Regions from separate parts of the Homo sapiens genome. Here all the other regions are linked to region 3. The links come from fine-mapping of genetic effects on gene expression. A gene starts in region 3. Each other region holds a variant in brackets. All regions are shown on one strand. Distances are from middle to middle. Region 1 holds the start of LOC107985044 (a long non-coding RNA gene). Region 2 holds the start of ADAM11 (ADAM metallopeptidase domain 11). Region 3 holds the start of DBF4B (DBF4B-CDC7 kinase regulatory subunit).

Evidence for each region. PIP is the estimated chance that this variant, and not a neighbour inherited with it, causes the effect. A credible set is the group of variants that fine-mapping cannot tell apart.
Region 1: its variant is the best candidate, but not a certain one, in a credible set for the expression of DBF4B in subcutaneous fat (GTEx, PIP 0.72).
Region 2: its variant is the best candidate, but not a certain one, in a credible set for the expression of DBF4B in coronary artery (GTEx, PIP 0.53).

The regions. Positions count from the first base shown.
Region 1 is chr17:44,738,205-44,748,076 of GRCh38, reverse strand. It overlaps DBF4B (DBF4B-CDC7 kinase regulatory subunit), which reads right to left. Exons shown (of 14, transcript NM_145663.3): 9 at 9,653-9,698; 10 at 6,625-6,741; 11 at 886-994; 12 at 562-686. It overlaps LOC107985044 (a long non-coding RNA gene), which reads left to right and starts at 7,170. Exons shown (of 3, transcript XR_001752906.1): 1 at 7,170-7,714. The variant C/T (reference allele first, on the strand shown) is at 7,513.
Region 2 is chr17:44,752,120-44,761,991 of GRCh38, reverse strand. It overlaps ADAM11 (ADAM metallopeptidase domain 11), which reads right to left and starts at 3,004. Exons shown (of 27, transcript NM_002390.6): 1 at 2,732-3,004; 2 at 2,095-2,270. The coding sequence starts at 2,792. It overlaps DBF4B (DBF4B-CDC7 kinase regulatory subunit), which reads right to left. Exons shown (of 14, transcript NM_145663.3): 14 at 9,728-9,872. RefSeq lists enhancers at 2,812-3,363, 8,432-8,932. The variant C/T (reference allele first, on the strand shown) is at 5,235.
Region 3 is chr17:44,703,224-44,713,095 of GRCh38, reverse strand. It overlaps DBF4B (DBF4B-CDC7 kinase regulatory subunit), which reads right to left and starts at 4,431. Exons shown (of 14, transcript NM_145663.3): 1 at 4,257-4,431; 2 at 3,730-3,792. The coding sequence starts at 4,275. RefSeq lists enhancers at 3,597-4,110, 4,111-4,625.

The DNA.
Region 1 (9,872 bases), 35 kb before region 3:
AGAGGAGGCTGTGCCCTTTGGCAGCTGAAGAAAGCAGCGCAGTGCCTGGCTGTGCAAGTTGAGCTTGAGGTGGAGATTTGGGGTGAGAGGTGAAGCCACAGCCCCAGGTGGGAGAGGGTCTGCCTTGCTGGCAGCAAGGGGAAGCAGGGCTCAGAGGGCCCTGGAATTCCCACCAAACCCCATGCAGTCCTTCTTTCTGGGGGTGACTTCTACAGAGGGGAAAGACTTTGCTTTTCACCTATCTAGGAGAGGCCCAAGCACTAACCCCCTGCTCCCTGGCCAGAACTGCTTATCAACCACATCAAAGCCTGTGGAGTTGGAAGGGAGCCACAGTGTAGTCTGGGTCTAGTCTTCATCAAGTGAAGCCACAAATGGAGGTCTTTTTATTTTTTTTGGCCAGCCCCAAAACAAACAGGACTGAGGATAAGGGGAAAGGAAGGTGAGAAAAGAGGAAAACATCACAGTCTGGTCCCAGCAGCCACCAACCTGAGGGTCTCTTCCCACCCAGAGGGCAACAGAGGAGAGAGCAGACACAGTTGTGCCTGCCAGCGTGGCACTCACCTGGGGAGGCCAGCCTGGAAAGGGATGTCTGCAAAGCTGTGGCTGAGCTGAGCAATGATCCTGTCCACTTCTGCATATAGATGGGCTTCCAGGGCAAAGCTCCGGTGCTGGGCACTCTGAAGATGCTGCCGGCGGGGGAGAGGAGCACAGGGCATTAGATGAGGCCTGGGGGGAGGGGGACACGGAAGCTGACCTCCCAGCCCATGCTCTGGCCCTGGAGGACAGCCATAGCAGCATAGAGATCGCATAGGAAGGACTCATCCCCAGTGAGCAGGCTCCCTCAGGGCACTCTGGGAGCAGCTGCTTAATGGGGAAGGGGCTCACCACATGGAGCTCCTCGAAGGCCTCCTGACAGCACTCGCAGTAGCCTTTCTTCCTCCTGGGCATGGTGTGGGCAGCTGATCGTGGGCTTGGCTCTCCATCCTTGGATTCTCTGGGGAGGGTACATAGTGCGGCAAAGTGGTTACTGCTGGGGCCCTTGGGGGGAGGAGCCACTACTTAGAGCCTGGAGCCTAGGTCAGGGAGGGGAAGGACCAAGATGGCCAAGGGGCTGTGCAGGCACCGGCAGGCAGGCCTTCCCTGAGCTTGGTACCAATCATCTAAGAATGGCAAGAGGGGAACAAGGAAGAAGACGTCTGGAGACCTCCCTGTGGGCAGCCTGTCTTATCTCTGTCCTCTCTCTCTTTTTTTTTTTTTTTTGAGAGAGTCTAGCTTAGTCACCCAGGCTGGAGTGCAGTGGTGCGATCTTGGCTCACTGCAATCTTCACCTCCTGGGCTCAAGCCATTCTCCTGCCTTAGCCTCCAGAGTAGCTGGGATTACAGGCGCCCGCCACAATGCTCAACTCATTTTTGTATTTTCAGTAGAGACGGGGTTTCACCATGTTGGCCAGGTTGGTCTCAAACTCCTGACCTCAGGTGATCCACCTGCCTTGGCCTCCCAAAGTGCTGGGATTACAGGTGTGAGCCACCGCGCCAGCCATCTCCGTCCTTCTCTTAAACGACAGGTGAAGATGGGATGGTGACGGCAGCAGCAAGAATCCCTTGTAGGAATTCCAACTCTGTGCTCAAACCTACACCCACATTCATGAGACCTGAAAGATGAAAGGGAAAAGGTCTCAACCACAGTGAAGGGACTGCTCTTCTTTTCCACCCTGAATGTCTCCCCAGCTTGGTTCAGTCTGTCCCTTCTCTCATGCTGCCTTGGATCTCTCACAGCTGTCCTCACTGTCCGCTAGGATTTTCAAACCTTCCTCAAACCTGACTTCTTTTTTTTTTTTTTTTTTTGAGATGGAGTATCGCTCTGTCACCCAGGCTGGAGTGCAGCAGCATGATTTCGGCTCACTGCAACCTCCACCTCCTGGGTTCAAGTGATTCTCTTGTCTCAGCCTCCCGAATAGCTGGGATTACAGGAACACACCACCACGCCTGGCTAATTTTCTTTCTTTTTTTTTTTTTTTTTTTTGTATTTTTAGTAGAGACAGGGTTTCACCATGTTGCCCAGGCTGGTCTCAAACTCCCGACCTCAGGTGATCTGCCCACCTCAGCCTCCCAAAATGCTGGGATTACAGGACTGAGTCACCACATCCGGCCAAGCCTGAATTCTTATCTGAATATCAGCCCCATATTTCTAACAACCAAAGGGCATTTCTATCTGGCTGTCCAGCAAACTCGACAAGTCCAAAACACTCCTTTTAAAGACTTCCTAAGTATGACACAAACCCCAGAAGATATACAGAAAAACTCATAAATTCAGCTATATACAACTTTAAAATATGTATGCATGGCAAAGAATCATTAGCAAATGATATGGTTAGGCTTTGTGTCCCCACCCAAATCTCATATTGAATTGTAATCCCTATAATCCCCAAGTGTCAATGGAGAGACCAGGTGGAGATAACTGAATCAGGTGGTTTCCCCCATGCTATTCTCGTGACAGTTCTCATGAGATGTGATGCTTTTGTAAGGGGCTCTTCCCCCTTCACTCAGCACTTATCCCTCCTGCCACCTTGTGGAGAAGGTGCCTTGCTTCCCCTTTGCCTTCCATCATGATTGTAAGTTTCCTGAGGCCTCCCCAGCCATGCTGAACTGTGAGTCTATTAAACCTCTTTCCTTTACAAATTACCCAGTCTCAGACAGGTCTGTATAGCAGTATGAAAATGGACTAATATAGCAGAGTTAAAAGACAAACCACAAACTTGGGGTTTTCTTGTCTTTTAAAAGTATTTACAACTTCTCTGCTCAGGGAGGCTTAGGAAAAAAATATATATATTGATTTATTTACAACTGCCAGGTACAGTGGCTCACACTTATAATCCCTGCACTTTGGGAGGTCAAGGTGGGAGGATCACTTGGGCGCAGGAGTTCGAGACCAGCCTGGGCAACATGGTGAAACCCCACCTCTACAAAAAATATAAAAATTAGCCAGGTGTGGTGGTGCACACCTGTACTCCCAGTTACTTGGGAGGCTGAGATGGGAGGATTGCCTGAGCCTGGGAGGTGGAGGTTGCAGTGACCAGAGAAAAGAAAATATTTACAACTAATAACAAAGAGCTCATTTTTCTAATATGAGAAGGGCTCCTTACAAATCATTAAAGTGATCAATAACCAAATAAAAAATGGGCAAAGTATAAAAAGAAGGTTCACATAAAAAGAGATTCAAACAACCAAACATATGCAAACTTACTTAGCCTCATTCATAGTAAGAAAAAACAAAAATTATAATTATACTGAGATACAGTTTTTAATCTGTTATACTGGAGGTCAGCATATCTGCCAGTCACAGCATGAGGCAAGGGGATGGGAAACAGCCTCTCTCATGCAGTGTAGGTAAACATATAAGTTGGTATCCGCTCCATGAAAAGCCATTTGGCTGAATTTATCAAAATTATAAATGCATATATCTTTTAACCCAATATTTCTACCTTTAGGAATTTATTCCACAAATGAGCAATTGCAAATTTACTCTGAACATGATTTTCATTGGAGCTAATCTAAGCATCCATGAATAACAGACTGGTTAAATAAAATACAGTAAATACATTCCATACAATGGAATAATGGATACCCTGCAGCCATAAAAGGGAATGCAATTTTTTTTTTTTTTTTGAGACAGGGTCTACTCTGTCACCCAGGCTGTTGTGCAGATTCACCACCTTGGCTCACTGCAACCTCTGCTTCCCATGCTTAAGCAATTCCCCAGCCTCAGCCTCCTGAGTAGCTTAGACTACAGGCTTGCACCACCATGCCTGGCTAATTTTTGTATTTTTAATAGAGGTGGGGTTTCACCATGTTGCTCAGGCTGGTCTCAAACTCGTGAGCTCAAGTGATCCACCTGCCTCAGTCTTCCAAAGTGCTAGGATTACAAGTATAAGCCACTGTGTCTGGCCAGATTTTTTAAAAATATAAAAATAGAGATGGGCGGGGGGGGGGGGGGGTGGTCTCATTATGTTGCCCAGGCTGGTCTCGAACTCCTGGCCTCAAAGTGATCCTTCCCCCTTGGCCTCCCAAAGTGCTGGGATTACAGGTGTGGTCTATCTCCAGAGATAGTTCATGGATATATAGGTACATGTGTATCCTTCGTTCCCTCTTCTTACATAAAGAATCATATAGGCTGGGTGTGGTGGCCCACACCTGTAATCCCAGCATTTTGGGAGGCTGAGGTGGGTGGATCACGAGGTCAGGAGTTCAAGACCAGTTGGCCAACATAGTGAAACCCCATCTGTACTAAAAACACAAACAATTAGCCGGGCGAGGTGGTGTGCACTGTAATCCCAACCACTCAGGAGGCTGAGGGAGGAGAATCGCGTGAACCTGGGAGGCGGAGGTTGCAGTGAGCAGAGATCACGCCACTGCACTCCTGCCTAGGCAACAGTGTGGGACTCATTCTCAAAAAAAAAAAAAAAAAAAAAGAATCATACAGTATTGACTATGCTGGATGTTACTTGCTTTTTCTTTTCATGCTGCCCCAGGCTGCACTCTCCATTTGGCAGGGGTGAGGCACCACTCGGATCTCCTCCAGCCTCTACCCCTGGGAGGAAGGTTGCACCAGTGAGGGGATAGAACTGGAGGCTGGGTGTGGAATATAGACTTTTCACATTAAACCATTTGTAACACAAATTTTAAACTTTTTAAATTTAAAAATTTTTAAACTTTAAAATATAATAATGATTTCAAAAATGTAAAAATTTAAACACTTCTTCCTACACATATTTTCCACATACACACGTGCCTGGAACTTTGATGTCCCACCAGGGCCAACTCCCTGCCTAGGCGCCTCACATGCAGATACCAAAGCTTCATTGCTTCATCTTCCCTTTACAGCCTCTTAGCTCCTCTGTGATCCCAAGGCCATCCCAGGCCTAGCATCACTGCCAGCGCCAAGCCTGGGCCACCTTCTGACTGGCTCTCCCTGGTATCCCTTGTATTGGGACTTAACCTCACCTCTTTCTCTCTTTGCTCCCATTTCATCTACTGCCACATTCCCTTAATTTTTTCCCTCCTATTTGTACTATTTTCTTACCCACAGCCTTTGTCAGCTGATGGAAACCACAGAGCCTCCTTGGCCCCAGGAACTCCAGGGCTGAGAGTCTGCTCTGTTCTCTCCTGGTCTATAACCCCACAGCCCAGAGGTTAGAAAGGGTCTGAGAAGGCATCTCACCCATCACCTGAGCTGAATTCCTTCTCTACTTTGGTTAATGAGGGTTCAAATTCTCAAACATCTGCAGAGTAGAAACATTAACAAGCCCACAAGCCATGAGCCACGTAATGCAGCGATCTTCTCCCCCGCCCCGCCCCTTAGTTATTCCTGATGTTTGGCCCAACCAGTTTAAACTTTGATATTCACTGAAATCACATGAGAGCTTGTAAAATGCAGCTTTTGGGGCTCCATCATCAGATATTTTGATTCTATAGATATGGGGTGGAGTTTAGGAACCTGCATCAGGGTTTCACTCTGTCACCCAGGCTGGAGTGCAGTGGCACAATCATAGCTTACTGCAACCTTGAACTCCTGGGCTCAAATGATTGTCCTGCCTTAGCCATCTGAGTAAGTGGGACTACAGGCACTTGTCATCACGCTTGACTAATTTTTTTTTTTTTTTTTTTTTTGAGAAGGAGTCTCGCTCTATCACCCAGGCTGAAGTACAGTGGCGCAATCTCAGCTCACTACAACCTCCGCCTGCCGGGTTCAAGCCATTCTCCTGCCTCAGCCTCCCAAGTAGCTGGGATTACAGGTGTGCACCACAATGCCTGGCTAATTTTTTTTTTGTTGCATTTTTAGTAGAGAAGGGGTTTCACCATATTGGCCAGGCTTGTCTCAAACTCCTGACCTGAAGTGATCCGCCCCCTTAGCCTCCCAAAGTGCTGGAATTACGGGCATGAGCCACTCTGCCTGACTCATAATTTTTTACATTTTTATTTTTATTTTTTGTAGAGGCAGAGTCTTGCTATGTTTGTGTGCCCAAGTTGGTCTCAAACTCCTGGCCTCATGTGATCCTCCCACTTTGGCATCTCAAAGTGCTGAGATTACAGGCATCAGCCACTGTGCCCAGCTAGAACTTGTATTTTTAATTAAAGAGACCCCAGGGGACTCTGATAATGGTGGTCTATAGATATGAGTTTGAGAAAGCGGTCTATTGTCTTCTGTGTATACTCGGTAAACCCTGCCGAGTGAGGTAACTGCTGGGTGCACCATGTCTGGTTGCAATGGTCCATGCTCTGGGGGAAACAGTGCAGGCCAGGGGTTCTGGGCGGACAGGGTAAGAGTGCTGTATCTCAGCAGTGAATTAACAAATAGGTCTTCTTCGACCCTTAAGGAGAAGGGGGTGCCCTTCACAACCCTGGCACCTCCCTTTCTTCTTCAAGTTAAATTCTTCAGTACGGATGAAGAACACAAAATAAAATGGATGAACGCTCCTAGTCTCTCTTCTCTGGGCTACGTTCCCAGAATAGACTTTGCCTAAGGAGCAAACACATGGCCATTCCCAAATCTGACCAGCAGGCCCCCGATGGGGAGGACTTTGGCCTGTAACCAGCCCTTGGTACTCAGGAACCAGAAAGACCCACCTGGTATGGTGCATGCTGCCCAGGGTCGTCGGGGCCTCAAAGGGACTTGCATCTTTGGGTCCAAGAAAAGAAATTTCAGGAAAGGATTTAAACTGATGATGGAAAGGACGAAACTTCCTGCAACAGAGAAAACTTCCACTTTGACTACAATGGGGAAGGTAAAGGCTGAGGAGGGGGCCTCGCCCAATGCCCTAGAATTCCAGCCCTGATAAAGTGGACTCTCACCTCCACATCTTTTAAATTCTATAACAAAACTCATCAGCCTTTCTAGGTTAAATTAATACATATGTTCTCCCTGTCTACTTTTCTTTTTTTTTTTTGAGACAGAGTCTCGCTGTCGCCCAGGCTGGAGTGCAGTGGCGCGATCTCGGCTCACTGCAAGCTCCGCCTCCCAGGTTCACACCATTCTCCTGCCTCAGCCTCCCGAGTAGCTGGGACTACAGGCGTCCGCCACCATGGCCGGCTAATTTTTTGTATTTTTAGTAGAGACGGGGTTTCACTGTGTTAGCCAGGATGGTCTCGATCTCCTGACCTTGTGATCTGCCCACCTCAGCCTCCCAAAGTGCTGGGATTACAGGCGTGAGCCACCACGCCCGGCCCCTCCCTGTCTACTTTTCAAACTCATACCACTGCCTCCCTGGAATCCTATAAGCACCCTCTGGGCTTATCCTATTTTATATCTAAGGAAATGAAGCCCAAGAGGTTCTGTGACTTGCTCAAGGGCTCACAAATAGTTAAGCAGCCAAGGTCAGATCAGAAGCCACATCTCCAGACTCCTGATCTACTTTTCCCCACCTTCCCATTTGTTTCTTGACCCTACAACAATCTTTGAGGACTCTAGCCTGGCAGATTCTAAATGGAAGAATGTTTAAACCAGAACAGTTATTT[C/T]CCTGTTCTGTGAAGTGTTCTTGCTGGTCCTTAGAACTATCTGAGGGCTGGGTTCTGAAAGGAGAAGACAGGCACAGTGAAGGTTCTGGATAGTCAGACCTGGACTGAGTGGTTCTGGCAGTGTGCCTCAAGTTGCAAACATTTAAGAGATTTGCAGAGACAGAAGTGATCTGTGTATACTTCGCAAACCCTGCCAAGTGAGGTAACTGCCGGGTGCACCATGTTTGGTTGCAATGGTCCATGTTCTGGGGGAAACAGTGCAAGCCAGGGGTTCTCAGGGAGCAGGGTAAGAGTACTGTAGCTCAGCAGTGAATTAACAAATAAGTCTTCTTGGACCCTTAAGGAGAAGGGGGTACCCCTCACAACCCTGGCATGTTTCTTTCTTCTTCAATGATATTGTTTCTGCTTAGGGGGCTTGAAACTTGAGGATGGGCAGGCTAATAGGCCTAATAGGCTTTGAATGCACCTGCTTCAAAACAGCACATAAAAAAAAAATCACAAGAGGCTGGGCACTGTGGCTCCCACCTGTAATTCCAGCACTTTGGGAGGCCAAGGCAGGTGGATCACCTGAGGCCAGTTTGTGATCAGCCAGGCCAACATGGCCAAACCCCGTCTCTACAAAAAATACAAAAATTAGCTGGGCGTGGTGGTGAACACCTTTAGTCCCAGCTACTCGGGAGGCAGAAGAATCGCTTGAATCTGGGAGGCAGGGGTTGCAGTGAGCCGAGATTGTGCCACCGCACTCCAGCCTAGGTGATGGAGTGAGACTCCGTCTCAAAAAAAAAAAAATTTCACAAGAAATCTCAGCTCCAGTTGGATCTCCTCTCTGGCCTATAATGCCAGGAATATGTGTACCCCTCTCTGGTGACAGTGATATACCTGTGCCTGCCATGTGCAGTGCAGATACTGAGGCTGTAACAGTGCCTTTCAGCCGTTGCATATGTGTCATGATTACCTACATTTAAATAGGTGTGAAGGGGCTGGGGATGAACACGCAATCCATCCCACTGGAACTGGAAGACAGCACCTCTGTACCATCCCATTGTTCTCTCCACTTGCCTTTGGGCCACCAAAGCCAGCGCAGCACTGTCTGCAGGTGCTGAGAAGTGACCCTGGGCTTGTCTGGAGGATGGGCAGGCATGCCAGGCTCCTAGGGCTGGTCTCAGCTGCCCTGCCCTTCCCTGTCTGAGGCACACAGACAATTCTGTCCTCAGTAGTCTCTGCTGGATACACATGGACTTATTTCCTTTAAAAAATTTATTTAGTCTGAAAATGCCTTTTTGGAAAAAATATTAAAAACAAAAATTTAAATTTTGAGATAATTATAGATTCACATACACTTTCGATCTTGTACTTACTGAAGATTCAGTGATAACCAACATGGCTGCTAATAGCTCATTAGGTTAACATTGTCATGGGACCCTCCTGCTCCGAGGGAAGAGGAGATCATAATGGTGGACAGAGAAGACACAAGACAGGGTAGGCAGGACACCTGGATTCTAGCCTTAGGCTGCAATTTATTAGCAAGGTGGCTGTACACAAGTCCCTTCCTTTCTCTGACCTCAGTTTTCCCCATTAGGAAGAGATGGGCTCTCCTCATGCTTTTTTCACCCAGGGCTGTCAGGAGGTAACATGAGCCAGAAAACGATTTTCAAAGTGAAACAGAAAGGCTTTATCAAGTACAGGGTGGCCTGACAAGGGAATCCCCAGTACCACCCCTAGCACCCTAATTTCAGCCAAGATGATGTCTTGGACTATACTAGCACTGTGACTGGGTAATGATTTGACATGAAATGTCAGCATACACCCAAGGGGAAAGGAGTTGCAATAATGAGCCTGCATGGGACACCATGAGCTCATAGAGCAGAGTATTAAATGGAGGTAATTCACACACAGGATCATTAACCTCTGACTCATCTCCAAGAGGACTATTCACTGTATAATGCCACTCTGAGGCTCCTCCTGGTTTGCATGAGACTTCTCCATGACAATGGGAGAAAGTGGCTTCTCAGGAAGATGAAGGTGCAGGGTTAAGGGGCTCCATGTCTTCACATTAGCTTGAGGCCCCTGAGCACCCCTCCCTCCTCCCTCCTCTGTGCAGGCCTAGCTGGGGCAAGCAGAGAAAGGAGGTCCCACTCACCTGCTTTCATCTTCGATTTTGAGGAACGGGGCCTTCAGTCTGGCCACTGAAAGGGGAAGAATGCACACATCAGCTATCTGTCTGCCCCTGTGCAGGGCCTGCACCACACATGCAGGAAATGCTGAGAGGGAAGGCTCTGCCAAAGCCTAAGAGCCTTGCAAGAGCTGGAAATCATGCCACCCCAGGCTGCGCTCTCCATTCACTCAGATCTCCAGCCTCT
Region 2 (9,872 bases), 49 kb before region 3:
AATTAGCCAGGCATGGTGGCGCACGTCTGTAATCCCAGCTACTCGGGAGGCTGAGGCAGTAGAATTGCTTGAACCCGGGAGGTGGAGGTTAGGGTGAGCAGAGATCACGCCATTGCACTCCAGCCTGGGCAACAAGAGCAAAACTCCATCACACACACACATAAACACACAAAAGTTACAAGCCTTACAGAGTTGTGAGAAATAAGTGATGTAGAGTGCATACAAAGCTTGGCAGAGTGGCCCATAGAAGTCCACAGCTTTGGTACCTCAGGGGAAACTGAGGCACAGATAAGAGAGGGCCCCAAACAAGTCCCTTGAGGAGGTCGCCATGAGGGCCCTAGGAAGTCTCAGTCTCAGAGAGACCCCAAAATTGGAGATAATCACTGCCCGGCAGATCCATGGAACTCCATTCCCTCCCCGCAGGCTCTCAGACACCCCTCAGAAGTATCTGGAATCGGTGGATCACATACACACCTCACATGCACTCACTCACCTGCAGAACAACACAGAGACCCCCAACCCAAGCAGTTCAACTGCACCCATCCTGACCTTCCCACGCAGCTGCAGACACCACCACAGCCCAGAACCTCCTACCCTTTGCCACCTCTGTCTCTGTTCGGAAAGGGTCAGGCTGAAGGAGCAACCTGCCCAGTTGGAATACCTGACTTTTCATCCCTACCTGACTCCAGGCTTTTCCTCAACTCTGTCCCCTTTCCCTGCGGTGACATCCCTCCATGACTCAATCTGCACATCCCTTAAAGCATAAGCCAGAGTCCCAGCAGTCGGGCAGACCATCAGTTCCCCCACAGTGTAACCACGGGGTGCACAGTTCACAGGTAGGGAGTGACACCAGGCAAGACAGCCAGACTCAGCGGCCAGGACACCCCATCCCCGGCCCTAGGACTGCACACCTCCCAGGGAGCCTGGGCAGTTGCTGAAGGCAGCTTCCACCCCCCACCCCACCCCCAGTGACTGCGGGCCTTGGACCATTAGCCCCCTCCCCCTGCCCCTCTGCACGGCCCTGAGTGATGGTCCATCTATTATGCATGCTCCCTTCCTGCTCCATCCATTTCATCAGTATTCTCCACCCCTGCACCACCCCGCATCCCCCTCTGCTCCCCTCCCTTAAGGGCTTTTAACCAAGTACATTAGGCAGGGCCAGATGCCAGTCTGACAGATGTCCGTAATGTTAGCCTCCGTTTCCCTCCTTCCTCCCTCTGCCCAGCCCAATTTACCTCCCACCACTCCCCGCTGCCAAAACTTCCCAGGCCTCAGTTGTACCCCTCTTCTGGGTCTCCCCCCTATACCTCCTGTTTGTGCCGGGCCTTTGCCAGCCAACCTGCCCTCTGCTGCCCTGTTGGCCTGGCTCACTTTCAGCTCCAGCTCTTGGAGCGCTGGGGTGTGCTGAATGAATATTCCATCTGGGTGATTATTATTCACATGATATTAATTAATTATTAATTGCAATTAATCTCCTTCATGCCTAACCTTCCTCTGGGAGGCAGGAGGGGCCTGGCAGCTGAAAGGGACAGTGGGCAGGCAGGTAGAGCTGGCTTGGGGCCTCAAGTTATTTTCCAAGGCCCCACCTTCAGCCAGGACAGGAAGAACAACAAGCCTATCTGGGCACTGTGTGGAAACTGAGGCAGGAGCAAGCACTAAGTTGTTCCAAGAAAGCCCACTAAGGTGGCTGTGGTGAGAACCTGAGAGCCCTAATCCCTGACTGGAATCTGGGCTGCCTCTCCCTGCCCCCAACTTGCCCCATCCAAGCCCTGTTTTGAACAGAACAACTAGCTTTGGCCAGAGCAGAGCAGGGGGCCATTGGAAGGCTGACCCAAAGCAGACCTGAGACCTAGGCATTAGTGGTCCCTGTACACTGAGGGCAGGGGACCCTACAATAATGGAAGGGGGCCCTGGGGCTGGGCAGGCCTGGTGCTCCCCACCAGTGGGCTCCAGCACCCACCGGATAGCCCACTGTACAGAAGGGGACCCTGCGGGGCAGCTGCTGAGGGGGACTCCAACCCTGGTTACCCCGTGGGCTTCCTGGGGCTCTGAGGCCTGCTTCAGCCCCTGGCCTCACCACCCAGCCCCACTCACCGGGCCCCCTGGTGGCTCCTGGCGGACCCTTGTGTCCAGCTGCTGCTTTCGGACCTCTCCCCCGGAGCTCTCCCTAACCAGACGGCTGGGTTCCGTGACCTCAGGGGCTCCTGGGCCTCCCAGCTGGGGTAAGCCCCCCCATCGCAGAGCTCCAGCAGGACCTTGGGTCCCAAGACCTGGGGAAACAAGGCCATGGCTGCAGGCAGCTGCCCACCCTGGGGCAGAAGACTTGGGAATGGGGTGGGCATGCCTCATCCCCCACTCTGGTGTGGCCCCTGGAGCCCTAGGGCGATCCGGGTGGGAGGATCTGGCTGCCCTGCAGAGGCAAGAGCCCGCGGGGAGGGGGCCAGGAGCTTCACTCCCGCCCAACCGTCACGACTGCCCCCCCATCCGCCCAAACCCGCAGAGACCTGCAGAGCTGGCCGGTCGGCGGCAGGGGCAGGGACGCGGTGGGCCCGGCCAGCTGGGGACAGGTGGGTGGACGCACCTTCCCTCCTCTCCCGCTCCCCTACCCTCCCGCGCTCCGGACCGGCTGTCACCCCGAGCACTGCAGGAAAAGGTGGCTGCAGCAGCAAGCGCCGCACATCCCGGGGCGGGGGCAGGGAGGGGGCGCCGGGGCCGGGCGGGGGTCACTCACCGGGCGTGGGGAGCAGCGACAGCAGCAGAGCCGCGAACGCCCAGCGCCGCAGCAGCCTCATGGCTCGCTCATTCCTCCCGGTCCGGGGGCTGCGGCTGCCAGCGGCGCGGGGAGGGCGGGAGCAGGGACGGGGGTGGGGAGGCGCCAGCTGCGGAGCCGGGGCGGGGGCGCGGGGCCGGGCGGGGGTCGCGGAGAGGTGGGGGCGGCAGGGACGGCGCCGGGGCTCAGCGCGCTCCGGCCGCGGCCATCCCGGCGGGGCGGCGGGGCCGGGTTAAGAGCTGAGCAGCGAGCACGTGAGCCCAGGGCCCGCCCTCCGCTCTCCCGCCGCCCCCCGGCCCCCCCAGCCCCGCAGGGCCCGGGCCGCCGCCGCGGCAGGACAAAAGAGGCGCCGCCCCGGGGTCCCTCCTCGCACCTCGAAGTCTCCTCGGCAGGTGCGGGGCGGTGGCGCTCCGCGTACTTATCCCGCGGCCTCTCCTCGGCCACCTCTGCCTGAGCATCTCCGAGGACTCGTAGATTTGTAGGGGAGGGAAGCAGGGGACGGGGTACCCCCGGGGTCGACCCGGCGACTGCCTGTCTGGGGCCCGGGGGCAGGGGCGTGGCTGCGGCGCCCACGTTCGCCCCTCTGTCGTGGTACCCCAGAGAGGCTGCCCCAGCCCCAGCTTGGAGCGCCCCGCTTGACCCCAGGCTGTGGAAGCTGGGGTTGGGGTGGGCAAAGGCTCTTGGCGAACGCCGGGCTCTACGCCTCTGGGATTTCTTGCACCTTCGCTACGGGTCGTGTCACTGCGGAGTCCTCTCACGCCCGCGGTACAGACCCCTTCCCATCGGCTCCTTCTCCCCGCCAAAGATGCCCCGGCCTCCAGGAGGGCTTCAGGGATCGCTGTCACTCCAACCATCAGGAAGGGCTGGCATGTCCGTCTGGGTTCCTGAGTCTCTCACAGGCGTCCTGTCCTTCCTCCTAGATAAAATATAAACTAGCCAGGTCACTTATATGCTGCTAGCATGCCCCATGGCTCCCCCTCCCTTGCTAGTCCCAATCCTTAGGAGCAGAAGACACCTCTGGAGCCCCCCAGCATTCCCTCTCTGGTCAGACTAGGCTGCCCTGTCTGCAAAATACTTGACCTCCCAACCTACATTCCCAGCTGTGCCCTCCACCCAGCTCCTGGGGATGTTGGGTCCCAATACCAGGGCTGGGACCTCAGACTTCTGCTAGGGGTGCTGAAGGCCAGATACCTGAGATGGTGTGGGGTGTGGTAGGGCATGGTGGGTGGGCCGCTGAGTCCCCACCCTGACCTTTTTGGTACCCATGCTAGGGGACCACAGGTTGCTGAAGAACAAGATTGGAGGCAGGAAACCCCTTCCTGGGTCCTCTGCTTCCGCAAGGACCCAGGGCCTCTGCTGGGGATGAGGGAACTGCCTCTAGCTTGTGACACCCCCACCCCCCGCTCTATTTTAGGCCCAGGAGAGGTGAGAAGGCGATTTCCCAGGAGGCGCTGACATCAATGTAGGGAACCAAGTGACTCCCCCCACCCCCAACCACCTGCCATGCCAGGCCCAGATGCTCAGTAAGGCTGAGCCAATTCTTCCTTCGCTCTGGAGACATCTTGAGAACCTCCTCCAAGATGTAGGCATGAGGAGGCTCCTGGGAATGAGGGCCTACTAGGTGGTATTCCTGGAAACTCATCATGAGCCCAGAGGGAGAGATTGTGCTCCCCATTTTACAGATGGGGAAACTGAGGCTCTGAGAGGTTATGTGAGCTTCTCAAAGTCACACAGCTGGTGAAAGGCACATCCCATACTCCATGGCCCCACTCCTCTTAGCCACCCCTAGTCCTACTTCCATCTCTGCCCTCCATTTGGGACCAGAGGGGACTGGTATATCTGGTCCCATGCACCCTCACCACACACCCCAGACACGAAGGTGGCTGTCCTGCTCCAGCCTGCCCATGTCCCAGGGCCACATCAGCAAGTCCCGATCAGGAGTGCCCCCCAGTAGGCTGGGTGAGGTTTGTCATTTCACAGTGCGAGCCCGGGGCTGGGAGAGTCTGGGTCCTCCAACATGTTCAAGACCACAGAGCAAGCCCAATCTGTGGTCCAGGCCTCTTCACCAGAGGCATGTTCCTACCACATCGGTGGCCCTGGGACCCTAGACTTCCTGTTGGGGAGACCTGATGAGCCCTAAGAGTGACTCTCCCTGGTGGCACCCTGGGCTAGTTCCAGTGGAGACTCGGTCATATGGCTCCCTGGCCCCCATAGCCACTTATATTCCTGGGTTCCCCGGCTCCCAGCAGATCTGGCTAGAACTTACTTTTTTTTTTTTTTTTTTTTTGAGACAGAGTCTGGCTCTGTCGCCCAGGCTGGAGTGCAGTGGCACGATCTCGGCTCACTGCAAGCTCCGCCTCCCGGGTTCACGCCATTCTCCTGCCTCAGCCTCCTGAATAGTTGGGACTACAGGTGCTCGCCACCACGCCCAGCTATTTTTTTTTTTTTTTTGTATTTTTAGTAG[C/T]GACGGGGTTTCACATGTTAGCCAGCATGGTCTCGATCTCCTGGCCTCGTGATCCACCCGCCTCGGCCTCCCAAAGTGCTGAGATTACAGGCGTGAGCCACCGCACCCGGCTAGAACTTACTATTTTTTTTTTTTCTTTTGGAGAGTCTCGCTCTGTCACCCAGGCTGGAGTAAAGTGGCAAGATCGCGGCTCACTTCAACCTCCACCTCTGGGGTCAAGTGATTCTCTTGCCTCAGCCTCCCGAGCAGCTAGGACAACAGGCATGTGTCACCATACCTGGCTAATTTTTTGTATTTTTAGTAGAGATGGGATCTCACCATGTTGCCCGGGCTGTTCTCACCCTCCTAAATTCACCATGTTGTCCAGGCTGTCCTCAACCTCCTAAATTCAGGCAATCTGCCTGCCTCCCAAAGTGCTAGGATTACAGGTGTGAGCCACCATGCCTGGCCTAGAACTTTCTTTTTTTTTTTTTTTGAGATTGAGTTTCGCTCTTTTTTTTTTTTTGAGATGGAGTCTCGCTGTGTCACCCAGGCTGGAGTGCAGTGGCGCCATCTCGGCTCACTGCAAGCTCCGCCTCCCGGGTTCATGCCATTCTCCTGCCTCAGTCTCCCGAGTAGCTGGGACTACAGGTGCCCAACACCATGCCCAGCTAATTTTTTTGTGTTTTTAGTAGAGACGGGGTTTCACTGTGTTAGCCAGGATAGTCTCGATCTCCTGACCTCGTGATCCACCCGCCTCGGCCTCCCAGGGTGCTGGTGGGATTACAGGGTGAGCCACCACCCCCAGCTGGAGTTTCGCTCTTGTTGCAATGGCATGATCTCGGCTCACCGCAACCTCCACCTCCCAGGTTCAAGCAATTCTCCTGCCTCAGCCTCCCGAGTAGCTGGGATTACAGACATGTGCCACCATGCCCAGCTAATTTTGTATTTTTAGTAGAGATGTGGTTTCTCCATGTTGGTCAGGCTGGTCTCGAACTCCTGACTTCAGGTGATCCACCCACCTCGGCCTCCTAAAGTGCTGGGATTACAGGCGTGAGCCCACCGCACCCAGCCGATCTTTTTTTTTTTTTTTTTTTTTTTTTTTGAGATGGGAGTCTCACTCTGTTGCTTAGGCTGGAGTGCAGTGGCATGATCTCGGCTCACTGCAATCTCCTTCTCCTGGGTTCAAGTGACTCTCCTGCCTCAGCCTCCCAAGTAGCTGGGATTACAGGTGTGCACCACCACGCCTGGCTAATTTTTGTATTATTAGTAGAGATGGGGTTTCGCCATGTTGGTCAGGCTGTTCTCAAACTCCTGGCCTCAAGCAATCTGCCTGCTTCAGCCTCCCAAAGTGCTGGGATTGCAGGCAATAGACCTTATTTTTTAATTTTTTGAGGGTCTCGCTCTGTTGCCCAGGCTGGAGAACAGTGGCACAATCATAGCTTCCTGTAACCTTGACCTCTTGGGCTCAAGTCATCTCCTGCCTCAGCCTCCTGAGTAGCAGGGACTACAGGTGGCGTCACCAAGCTTGGCTTTTTTTTTTTTTTTTTTTTTCAGACGGAGTCTTGTTCTGTTGCCCAGGCTGGAGTGCAATGGTATGACCTCGGCTCACTGCAACCTCCTCCTCCCACCGGGTTCCAGCAATTCTCCTGCCTCAGCCTCTCAAGTAGCTGGGATTACAGGTGTGCTCCACCATGTCTGGCTAATTTTTGTATTTTTAGTAGAGATGGGGTTTCACCATGTTGGCCAGGCTGGTCTTGAACTCCTGACCTCAAGTGATCTGCCCACCTTGGCCTCCCAAAGTGCTGGGATTACAGGTGTGAGCCACCGTGCCCAGCACTTTTGTATTTTTTGTAGAGATTGGGTTTCATCATGTTGTCCTGGCTGTTCTCAACACCTGGACTCAAGAGCCATTCAAGGCCAGGCGTGGTGGCTCAAGCTTGTAATCCCAGCACTTTGGGATGCTGAGGCGGGTGGATCACGAGGTCAGGAGATCGAGACCATCCTGGCTAACACGGTGAAACCCTGTCTCAACTAAAAATACAAAAAATTAGCCAGGCGTGGTGGTGGGCGCCTGTAGTCCCAGCTACTCGGGAGGCTGAGGCAGGAGAATGGGGTGAACCTGGGAGGCAGAGCAGCCTCCCAAAGTGCTGGGATTACCAGGCATGAGGCCGATGCTTGGCTAACAAAATTTCTTTTTGTAGAGACGGGGGTCTTTTTATGTTGCCCAGGCCAGTCTCGAACTCTTGAACTCAAGTGATCCTCCAGCCTCAGCCTCCCAAAGTGCTGGGATTAGATTACATCTGTGAACCCTGGCACCCGGCCTCGGCTAGACCTCTTGCCTCTCCCTTGATCACAGTCCCCAGTCCCTGAGGTTCCACCTCCCCTGTCTCATGCTTGCCTCAGCTCTCTTAGGAGCTGTGGGATCCCCACACAGAAAGCTTGCTTCACGTTCTTTCACCCACCGTCCCTCCTGAGGTCAGGGCTGTCTGTTTTCTCATTGGTGGCCCTTCATCAGACTGGGACTTCAGAAGAGCAGGGCTTGTCCTCCTCATCAGACCTGACCCTGATAGCAAGGGCTGTTTTCTGCTTAGATCGGGGCAGGCCTGTGTCTCCCCCTCAAACATAGGGTTCCCTGGGGGGCCCCACCTCAACTTCATAGCTATGGCTGGCTCCTTCGGTCCATCCATTGAGGCTGGGGCCACTATTTCTGCTGCCCTGATGCCACTCTTGGGGTTGCTCTTGCTGAGGGAGCTGTGGGGCCCTGAGGGGTGGGTCTCTGGCCTCCCTTAGGAAGCCCCTTCCCTAGGAGGCCGGAGCCTCCTTCCTTCTGCTGCTCTTCTAGCTCTTTAGCCGGTTCTCTCAAATTTTCCTGCATAAGGGCCAAGTTGGGGATGCAGGGCCAAGACCTTGTCTCCGCAACTCCAGGTAAGGGAGAGGTCCTGGTTGCCCCCAGCCCTGGGGTGATACCACCGGCAGTGATTCCTGCCAGTGGAGGCCGTCCAGGCCTGGTGACCAGCCTTAAGTCCTGCAGCACAGACCATGCTAGTCAAGGGGGCAGGATTCAGGTCTCCAGGCTGGGGTCCCAATCCTGCCTCCCCCACAAACTGGCTGTGTGACCTTGAGCAAGCCCGCTGGCCTCTCTGGGCCTTGGTTTCCTCATCCACGACACAGGGGTTAGAAAACCACCCCCCTCACAGTGCTCCTCTCGGGGATGATGGCTGAGCTGCCCATGCTTGGAGCAGCGTCTGGCACATGAAAGGGGCTCAGTCACCCTGGGCTCGCACCGTCCAAGGCGCCGAGGAGCAAACCGGCTCCCTGGCCCTTGCCCAGGACCCCAGGCCTCTCTATGGCTTGGGGTCCTCGGGGTCCTCTCTCTACCCAGCACAGAGAGAACCTGTGCCTGATGTCGTGATGTGGAGGGGTGGCAGCAGGGGAAGTGCCTAGCATTTGGACAGGAAGTTCATCCTGCTTCCTCTTAGATGCCAGCCCAGGGTCCAAGGACCGTTCTTCTCATCTGCATAGCTCTCCCGGGAAACCTCATGCTCCTCCCTCTCAGGCGTCCAAGTGGCCCCTCTTTTAATCTCTGAAGCTCTCAGGCTTCACCAAGGGAGGAGTTGGGGGCACCTGGGGCACCAGGATCCCAGGCACACTCATCCTTTGGGAGGTCTGTGGGGCACAAATACAGTCACACCCATAAGGGCCCAAGTGCCACTTCTTTTCCACAAAAGGGATCCTCCTGGAGCTCAGGAGAGGGCCCTTGGGAGGGGGCCTGGGACAGGGGGTCTCACAGTGCCCCTCAGCAGCTTCATCCACAAATGCTCACCCGAGATGAGGACGCCAGTTACCAAGGGACACTGCCAGGTGGGAATTAGTGAGAATAAGCTTTATGTAAGTTTAGGAGGGAGGCCTCACAGGCATGTGTGCCTGTGGGTAATATGTTATTTGTTGAGACAATGTGCCAAGCTCTGTGCCACATACCTCACAAACACATCTGATTTCACTCTTGTGATTTCCTAGCGAGGTAGCAACTATGATTATCTCCATTTTTCGTATTTATTTATTTATTTATTTATTTTCGAGACAGTCTCGCCCTGTTGCCCAGGCTGGAGTGCAGTGGCACAATCTCGGCTCACTGCAACCTCTGCCTCCCAGGTTCAAGTGATTCTCCTGCCTCAGCCTCCCGAGTAGCTGGGATTACAGGCATGCCAGCATGCCCGGCTAACTTTTGTATTTTTAGTAGAGATGGGGTTTCACTATGTTGGCCAGGCTGGTCTCGAACTCCTGACCTCAAATGATCCGCCCGCCTCAGCCTCCCAAAGTGCAGGGATTACAGGCGTGAGCCACCGTGCCCAGCCTAGATTACCTCCATTTTTTAGATCAAGAAAACAGTTTGAGCTGGGCACAGCTGAAACTCCCCTGGGAAGGGGAGCCAAGATCCAGGATGAGAAGGAGTGCTCGGGTATACAGCACTCCTGCTGGTGGCAGGATAGGGAAAGACATAAAAGATTTGCTGGCAGTCACAGTATTTTATTATTGGAAAGGGTCCTGAAATCATCTCATCCAAGCCCCTTACTTAAAGACGAGGAAACTGAGGCCCGAGTAATAAAGGCATTTTTCTGAGGTCACAGTGAGTTGGAGGCAGCTAGCTCCTGCATT
Region 3 (9,872 bases):
TGCACTCCAGCCTGGGCGACAGAGCAAGACTCTGTCTCAAAAAAAAAAAAAAAAAAAAAAAGTCAATACAAATGACTAAATCAAAATTACTACATATATACTGGGGAGATAAAAGGAAAGGTGGGAAATGCATGTGCGTTTGTGTGTGGTGCAGAGAAGTGGTAGGACAGAAAAAATCTTTATTGTCCATAGAAGACAGTCAATAGATATAATTCAAAATTGACTGGGCATGGTGGCTCACGCCTGTAATTCCATCACTTTGGGAGGCCGAGGTGGGCAGATCACTTGAGCCCAAGAGTTCAAGACCAGCCTGGGCAACACAGTGAGACCCCATCTCTATAAAAAAAAAAGAAGACAGGCCGGGTGTGGTGGCTCACACCTGTAATCCCAGCACTTTGGGAGGCTGAGGAGGGCAGATCGTGAGGTCAGGCAATCGAGACCATCCTGGCTAACATGGTAAAACCCCATCTCTACTAAAAATACAAAAAATTTGGCTGGGCGTGGTGGCTCATGCCTGTAATCCCAGCACTTTGGGAGTCTGAGACGGGTGGATCACGAGACCAGGAGATCAAGACCATCCTAGCTAACACAGTGAAACCCCATCTCTACTAAAAAGACAAAAAATTAGCCAGTCATGGTGGCACGTGCCTGTAGTCCCAGCTACTTGGGAGGCTGAGGCAGGAGAATCGCTTGAACCCAGGAGGCAGAGGTTGCAGTGAGCCGAGATGATTGTGCCACTGCACTCCAGCCTGATGAGAGTGAGACCGTCTCAAAAAAAAAAAAAAAAAAAAAAAGAAGACATAATTCAAAATGGAAAACAATTAAAACAGTATGAGCATATTATTACAGAAATAAGGTGGTAGCTTCTAGAAGAAATAGTTAAAAGCTGTAAATGGCTGTTTCTTAGGAAGTGGGAATCAGACAGCCTGAAAGGGGATTAACTCTCATGCCTCCTGTTTTTTGTGAGAAACTTTGGCTTTTTTTTTTTTTTCTTTTTTGAGATGGAGTTTCATTCTTGTTGCCCAGGCTGGAGTGCAATGGCACAGTCTCGGCTCACTGCAACCTCCACCTCCTGGGTTCAAGCAATTCTCCTGCTTCAGCCTCCCAAGTAGCTGGGATTATAGGAGCCTGCCACCACGCCAGCTAATTTTTTTTTTTTTTGAGACAGAGTCTTGCTCTGTCGCCCAGGCTGGAGTGCAGTGGTGCAATTTTGCTCACTGCAAGCTCCGCCTCCCGGGTTCACGCCATTCTCCTGCCTCAGCCTCCCGAGTAGCTGGGACTACAGGTGCCTGCCACCACGCCCGGCTAATTTTTTGTATTTTTAGTAGAGATGGGGTTTCACCATGGTCTCAATCTCCTGACCTCGTGATCCCCCTGCCTCGGCCTCCCAAAGTGCTGGGATTACAGGTGTCAGCTACCACGCCCGGCTCTGTTTTTTGTATTTTTAGTAGAGACAGGGTTTCACCACGTTGCCCAGGCTGGTCTTGAACTCCTGATCTCAGGTGATCCGCCTGCCTTGGCCTCCCAAAGTGCTGGGATTACAAGTGTGAGCCACCACACATGGCCTGCCTTTTAAGCTATGTCAAGAATCAAACAGGAAGCCAGGTGTGGAGACATGCACCTGAAGACATAGCTACTTGGGAGACTGAGGCAGGAGATTGGGAGACTGAGGCAGGAGAATTGCTTGCACCCAGGGCTTTGAGGCTGCAGTGAGCTATGATTGTGCCACTGTACTCTAGCCTGGGTAACAGAGCAAGTTCTTGTCTCTAAAATAAAATAATAATTTAAAAAAATTTAAAGAATCAATCTGGAGGCCAGGTGTGGTGGCTCACGCCTATAATCCCAGTATTTTGGGAGGCTGAAGCAGGTGGATCATGAGGTCGGGAGTTCAAGACTAGCCTGACCAACATGGTGGAACCCTGTCTCTAGTGAAAATACAAAAATTAGCCGGGCATGGTGGCGTGCTCCTGTAATCCCAGCTACTCAGGAGACTGAGGCAAAAGAATTGCTTGAATTCTGGAGGCAGAGGTTGCAGTGAGCCGAGATGGTGCCACTGCACTCCAGCCTGGGCGACAAAGCGAGACTCTGTCTCAAAAAAAAAAAAAAAAAAAAAAAAAAATCAAACTGGAATAAAAACGAAAATAAAAACCCTCTAAAATCCACACATTATCATCTTATAGTAAATTTTAAGAACAAATATAAAAATGTATAATCTAAAATATTGGGCTGGGTGCAGTGGCTCACTCCTGTAATCCCAACACTTTGGGAAGCTGAGGAGGGTGATCGCTTGAGCCCAGGAGTTGAAGACCGGCCTGGGCAACATGGCAAAACCTCGTCTCTACAAAACAAACAACAAAAAAAAATTAGCTGGGCGTGGTGTTGAGTGCCTGCAGTCCCAGCTACCTGGGAGTCTGAGGTGGGAGGATCACTTGATCCCGGTGAGGCCAAACCTGCAGTGAGCCATGATTGCTCCACTGCACTCCAGCCTGGGTGCAAGACCTCAAAATAAATAAAATAAAACATTTTTTTCTTTCATCAATATAATCCATAGGTTCACATAATCTAAAACATCTAATGAGAAAAGGAGGTCACTTACAAAGCAGCAAGAATAAAAAAGAAATGCTGAAGAAAACAAGGAGAAAATACTGTAATTTTTCAATGTGTTGAAGGAAAAAAAATTGACTTAAATTTTACTACAAGGCTGAAATAAATATATTCTTAGTTTATCACACAAAGCCTCCTTTTGAAAACACTCTTGAAGTTCTCCAGAGAAACAGAAGGGGGAAAAAAAACCAACAAGAGATGGGAAGAATGAATAACTCAGTAAATGAAGTGGATTACTGTTTAAAAGGCAACAAGCCGATGGCATATCTGTTAACAATCCAGAAGTAAAAGTAGACGGTATTTTTTTTTTCTTTTTTTTGAGACGGAGTCTCGCTCGGTCGCCCAGGTTGGAGTGCAGTGGCGCAATCTCGGCTCGCTGCAACCTCCGCCTCCTGGGTTCAATCAATTTTCCTGCCTCAGCCTCCTGAGTAGCTGGGACTACAGGCACGCCTCACCACGCCCGCCTAATTTTTTGTATTTTTAGTAGAGATGGGGTTTCACTGTGTTAGCCAGGATGGTCTCAATCTCCTGACCTCGTGATCCGCCCGCCTTGGCCTCCCAAAGTGCTGGGATTACAGGCGTGAGCAGCCGCGCCCGGCCAACTAGATGATATTAACTAAAGGGGCAGTACGGAGGGAAGTGCCATGTGCTAAAATACTTACCTAATTAGGTAGCAGTGTTTAACTTAAGGATTTTATTGTAAACAACTATGAATGTATTAATTTATATATTTAATAAGTCACTCTATCCTGACTCCACATCTGTCTGTTAATCTTGTTCATAATATGACTCTTACTTGACCTTTATCATGAATCCCAAAACGGTCTATGATGCTGCGTCCATACACACACACACATAAAACCACTAAGTGGGCCTGGTGAAGTGGCTCACACCTGTAATCCCAGCATTTTGGGAGGCCTAGGCAGGAGAACTGCTTGAGGCCAGGAGTTTGAGACCAGCTTGGCCAACACAGCAAGACCCCATCCCAATAAATAAAATGAATAAATAAGTACATAAAAACACTGAGTGATCGAAAACTCCAACAGGGGGAACATTTTTCGGTCTTCTCCAAGAGACCCTGGGGCAATTTTCACCTCACGTCCCTAGTTCTGTCCTGTTACCCACCTAGGTCCGGGGCCCGGAGCCTACTCTCAGCCATGGAACTCTCCAGCTCGAGGCAATCGTCTCCTGAGAAAGGACATAACAGCAACTCAACCATCTTCACCAACCCTTGGAACTTCCATGCCTCCCGCCCACTACTGTCTCCCAAAACGCGCACAGAAACGCGACTCCTGGGAACAGCAAGACTCAACTCCATTCCGACCTACATCCCGCGACTCCCGCCAGGCTCTTGCCCCTCATGCCCTCCGCCTCCTTTCAGACTCCGTTCAGTCAACGGCCGTGACCTCTTGGCCACCTCCTGTCCATCTCAATCTCCATACATCCCTCCAGGCTGTTGTCCCCTACGTTCCTCTGCCACCTTCATTCCTCGGTCCCCTCAACTCCTGTGGCTCCTTCCCGGCCCCTATACCCTCCTCAGCTTCGGCACCTACCCGCTGGTCACTTCCTAAGCCCCCTCCACGACTCCGCACCTCGCCTCAGCTATTAACGACCCCTTCCGCCTTTCTTTCTCCCCTTCCCGGCATCCGTACCCTTTCCCGGTTCGCTCATCAAATGCCGGCTCCTTCTCGGCCTCCGTACTCCTTCCTCAGAGGCCTCCGTATTACATTCGCGAGCTCCATGAGCTCTTCCCGATTCCACAGTCCTGGTTATCTCAGGGCAGCTACAGCATCAATCTCTTGGCGTTTTCGGCCGCGGCTTCAGTTTAAATTTCCTGCCGGCTCCACCCCTAAAAGAACGCCGTAGCTGCGAGATCCGCCCTACGGTGTCCTTGGAAGGACAATATTAGTTTCGCGATTCCTCTTTCCGTTCCCCCACCGCCTACGTCTTCTCAAACCGTCTCTTCATTTCTTGGCTCTTCACTGGCTAGACGGCTTTGCCCCTTAATGGCCCTCAAGTTGAGGACTAGTGGTCGCTTTTTAGTGATTCTTCACACTGAGCTGCATTGAAATTCCTAGAAGTTTGAATACTAAATAACAAAATAAGCCTAACACTTGCAGAGCATTTGCAGTTTACATAAAGATTTCACTTACACATCATTTCATCTTCACATTTTTGTCCCCCTCCCGTTCTTCAATTATTACCTGCCCAACAAAACTTCTCAAAAGACGTATCTTTATCCCTCACTTCCCATCTTTTCTTCAACCCATCTAATTAGACTGCTAATTAGAGATCAAATTTGATCTAATAAGAGATCATTCAGTGGAGAGCTGGGGACCTCCCCACAAAAACTGTACTTATCCAGGTCAACTGTGATTTCCACAGTCTGAAATACTATCCTTATCATATCCAACTTATAGATGGACTATTCCTTCTTTGAAATACTTTCTTCTTTTTGCTTCCATGACTCAGCACTCTACCGTTTTTTTCCCTATCTCAATGGTTCCTCCTCAGTCCCCTTTGCTGGATCCAAAGCCACTGTTCACCTATATATTTTGGAGTATGCCAACGCTTTAGCCCTTATCCCTCTCCCTTATCTCCCTAGGAGATCTCATCCAGCTCCACAGCTTTACAATTCAGCTCTGCCACACCTTCAGATTTTCTGTAGCTCTGACCTGTCTGATCTCCAGACTCACATATTCAAGTGCCTACTGGCTATTTCAATTTGGATGTCTAATAGGCACCTCAGGCTGAACACATTCAAAACAGAACATTTGTTTCGCTGCCCCTGTCAAAAAACCACCTGTTCTCCCCCCAGGTCTTCCCCTCTCAGTAAAATGTTACTGTTTACTCAAATGTCACAATCATTCACCCAGTTGCTCAAACCAAAAACCTAGAAGTTGTCTTTCAGTACTTTCCCTTGTGCCCATCCCCACTCCAAGAAAAAAATCCTACTAACTCTGCCTCCAAAGTACATCTGGAATCAGACCACCACCACCCTAGTTCAAGCTGCTATCATTTCTTGCCTAAAGTACTGCGGTCAATTCTTCACTTCTACTCCCGAGTAGCTTCCTATCTCTCCCCAGTATAATCCATTCTCCATTCAGCAACCAGAGTGATAGTTTTTATATTTATTTATTTTTTTATTGAGAGGGAGTCTCGCTCTGTCGCCCAGGCTGGAGTGCAGTGGCGCAATCTTGGCTCACTGCAACCTTTGCCTCCCGGGTTCAGGCCATTCTCCTGCCTCAGCCTCCCGAGTAGCTGGGATTACAGGTGCCTGCCACCATGCCCGGCTAATTTTTGTATTTTAGTAGAGTCGGGGTTTCACCAGGTTGGCCAGGCTGGTCTCGAACTCCTGACCTCAGGTGATTCATCCGCCTCGGCCTCCCAAAGTGCTGAGATTACAGGTGTGAGCCACCGCGCCTGGCCCAGGGTGATATTTTTTAAACACTGGTAGAGGTATATACAGTACATAAACTTGGTATCTCTTCCAGTGGGACTCCTCCCTGAGGAAGCTTATACATCTCAGCCCTGATGAACGAACGAAGCCTTGGCCATATGACTTGCTTTGGCTCATGAAAAAAGAAAAAAGTGACATCACTTCCAAGCAGAAACTTTAAGAGGCAAGATGGTTCAGCATGTTCTTTTTTCACATGTGTGACAGAATTTGTATAATAAAGGTATCTGCCTCAGCATTGTTTGCAATACCAAAAGATCAAAAGCAACGAAAATATTGATTAACAACGGGCAGTAGGTTAAATAAATTATGGTGTAGTCATACTGTGCAACACTATGCAACTCCAAAAAATGAAAATACTTTAAAATATAAATGTATTTAGGGAATCCTAGCCAGAGCAATCAGCAAGAAAAAGAAACAAAAGGCATCCAAATAGGTAAAGAGAAAATCAAATTATCTCTGCTTACTGATGATATGATTCTATAGCTAGAAAACCATGAGGACTCCACCAAAAGGCTCCTAGACCCAATAAATTACTTTAATAAAATTTTAGGATTAAAAAAAAGTCAACACACAAAAATCAGTAGCATTTCTATACACCAATAACGTTCAAGCTGAGAGCCAAATCAAGAATGTGATCTCATGTACAACAGCCACACACACAGGCTGGGCATGTTGGCTCACACCTGTAATCCCAGCACTTTGGGAGGCTGAGGAGGGTGGATCACTTGAGGCCAGGAGTTCGAGACCAGCCTGGCCAACATGGTGAAACCCCATCTCCACTAAAAATACAAAAATTAGCCTGGAGTGATGGTGTGCAACTGTAATCCCAGCTATTCAGGTGGCTGAGGCACAAGGATCACTTGAGCCCAGGAGGCGAAGATTGCAGTGAGCCAAGCTCACACCACTGCATTCCAGCCTGGGTGACGAGACTCTGTCAAAAAAAAAAAAAAAAAAAGCGCCAGCCGGGCATGGTGGCTCACACCTGTAATCCCAGTACTTTGGGAGGCCGAGGCGGGCAGATCACGAGGTCAGGAGATCGAGACCATCCTGGCTAACATGGTGAAACCCCGTCTCTACTAAAAATACAAAAAATTAGCCAGGTGTGGTGGCTGGTGCCTGTAGTCCCAGTTACTTGGGAGGCTGAGGCAGGAGAATGGCATGAACCCGGGAGGCAGAGCTTGCAGTAAGACGAGATCACCCCACTGCACTCCAGCCTGGGCAACAGAACGAGACTCTGTCTCATTAAAAAAAAAAGAGCCACACACACAAAACAATCCCTAGGAATACATCTCACCAAGGAGGTGAAAGATCTCTACAAGAACTATAAAACACTGCTGCTGAAAGAAATAATAAAAGACACAAACGAATAGAAAAACATTCCATGATCATGGATTGGAAGAGTCAATATCATTAGAATGTCCATACTGCCCAAAACAATCTACAGATTCAGTGCTATTCCTATCAAATTACCAATGTAATTTTTCACAGAATCAGAAAAAAAAACTATTCTAAAATGCATATAGAATGAAAAAAAGAGCCTGAATCGCCAAAGCAATCCTAAGCTAAAAGAACAAAGCCAGAGGCATTACATTACCTGACTTCAAACTAAACAAGGCTACAGTAACCAAAACAGCATGGTAGTGGCATAAAAATAGACACATAGACCAATGGAACAGAATAAAGAACCCAAAAATAAAGCTGTACACCTATGAGTAATGGGGAAAGGACTCCCTGTTCAATAAATGATGCTGGGAAAACTGGTTAACCATATGCAGAAGAATGAAACTGGACCCCTACCTCTTACCATATACAAAAATTAACTCAAGGTGGATGAAAGACTTAAATGTAAGACATCAAACTAAAAATTCTGGAACAAAACCTAGGAAATACTGTCTAGATATCAGCCTGAGTCCTCAAAAGCAATTACGACAAAAAAAAAAAAAATTGACAACTGGCACCTAATTAAACTAAAGAGCTTCCAAAGCACAGCAAAAGAAACTATCAATGAAGTAAACAACCTACAGAATGGGAGAACATATTTGCAAACTATGCATCTGACAAAGGACTAATATCCAGAATCTATAAGGAACTTAAATAAATCAACGACAACAAAAAAACCTAATTAAAAAGTGGGCAAAGGCCAGATGCAGGGGCTCATGCCTGTAATCTCAACACTTTGGGAGGCCAAGGTAGGAGGCTTTACTTGAGCTCAGGAGTTCAAGGTCAGCCTGGGCAAAATAGGGAGGCCCATCTATATAAAAATTTTTTTAAATTAGCTAGGCCTGGTGGCATATGCCTGCAGCCCCAGCTACTTGGGAGGCTGAGGTAGGAGGATCACCTGGGCCAGAAGGTCAAGTCTGCAGTGAGCCAAGATCATGCCACTGCACTCCAGCCTGAACGACAGACCAAGACCTTGTCTCAAAAAAAAAAAAAAAAAAAAAGGCAAAAACATGAGCAGACATATCTTAAAAAAAGACATACAAGTGGCAACAAACATGAAAAAATGCTTAATATCATTGATCATCAGAGAAATGTAAATTAAAACCACAATGAGATACCATCTCATACCAGTCAGAATGGCTACTATTAAAAAGCCAAAAGATAATAAATGTTGGCCAGTCTATGGAGAAAAGGTAATGCTTATATACTGTTGGTGAGAATGTAAATTAGTTCAGCCCCTGTGGAAAGCAGTGTGATTTCTCAAAGAACTAAAAATAGAACTATCATGTGACCCAGCAATCCCATTACTTGGTATATACCCAAAGGAAAATAAACCATTCTACCAAAAGGACACCTGCACTATGTTTATTACCACACTATTCACAGTAGCAAAGACATAGAAACAACCTAGGTACCCCGTGAATGGTGGATTGGATAAAGTAAATGTGGTACATATACACCATGGGATACTATACAGCCATAAAAAATAATGAAATTGCTGGGGGCAGTGGCTCACGCCTGTAATCCCAGTACTTTGGGAGGCCGAAGTGGGCGGATCACTTGAGGTTGGAAGTTCGAGACCAGCCTGACCAACATGGAGAAACCCCATCTCTACTAAAAATACAAAATTAGCCGGGTGTGGTGGCGCATGCCTGTAATCCCATCTACTCGGGAGGGTGAGGCAGGAGAATAGCTTGAACCTGGAAGTCAGAGGTTGCGGTGAGCTGAGATCTTGCCATTGCACTCCAGCCTGGGCAGCAAGAGCAAAACTCAATCTCAAAAAAAAAAAAAACATCATGTCTTTTGTAGCAATGTGAGTGTAGCTGGAGGCCATTCTCCTAAGCAAATTAGCACAGAAACAGAAAACCAAATATTGCATGTTCTCACTTTTAAGTGGGATCTAAACCCTGGATACACATGGACATAAAGATGAGAACAATAGACACTGGGGACTCCAAAAGGAGGGAAGGCTGGAGAGAGGAAGGTGGGTAATATGTTCACTATCTGGGTGATGGGATCACTCGAAGCCCAGGCCAGGTGTGGTGGCTGATGCCTGTAATCCCAACACTTGGGACACCAAGGCCCGAGGATCACTTGAGCCCAGGGGTTTGAGACCAGCCTGGGCAACATAGGGAGAACCTTTCTCTACAATAAATAAAATAAAAAATTAGCTGAGCATTAGGTATGCACCTGTGGTCCCAGCTATTGGAGAGGCTGAGGTGAGAGGGTCGCTTGAGCCCAGGAGGTCAAGGCTGCAGTGAGCTGTGATTGCCCCACTGCAGTCCAGTCTGGGCAACAGAGGGAGACTCTGCCCCAGCCCACCCTGCCCACCCCCCACCGACAAGCCCAAATTGCAGCATTGCACAAT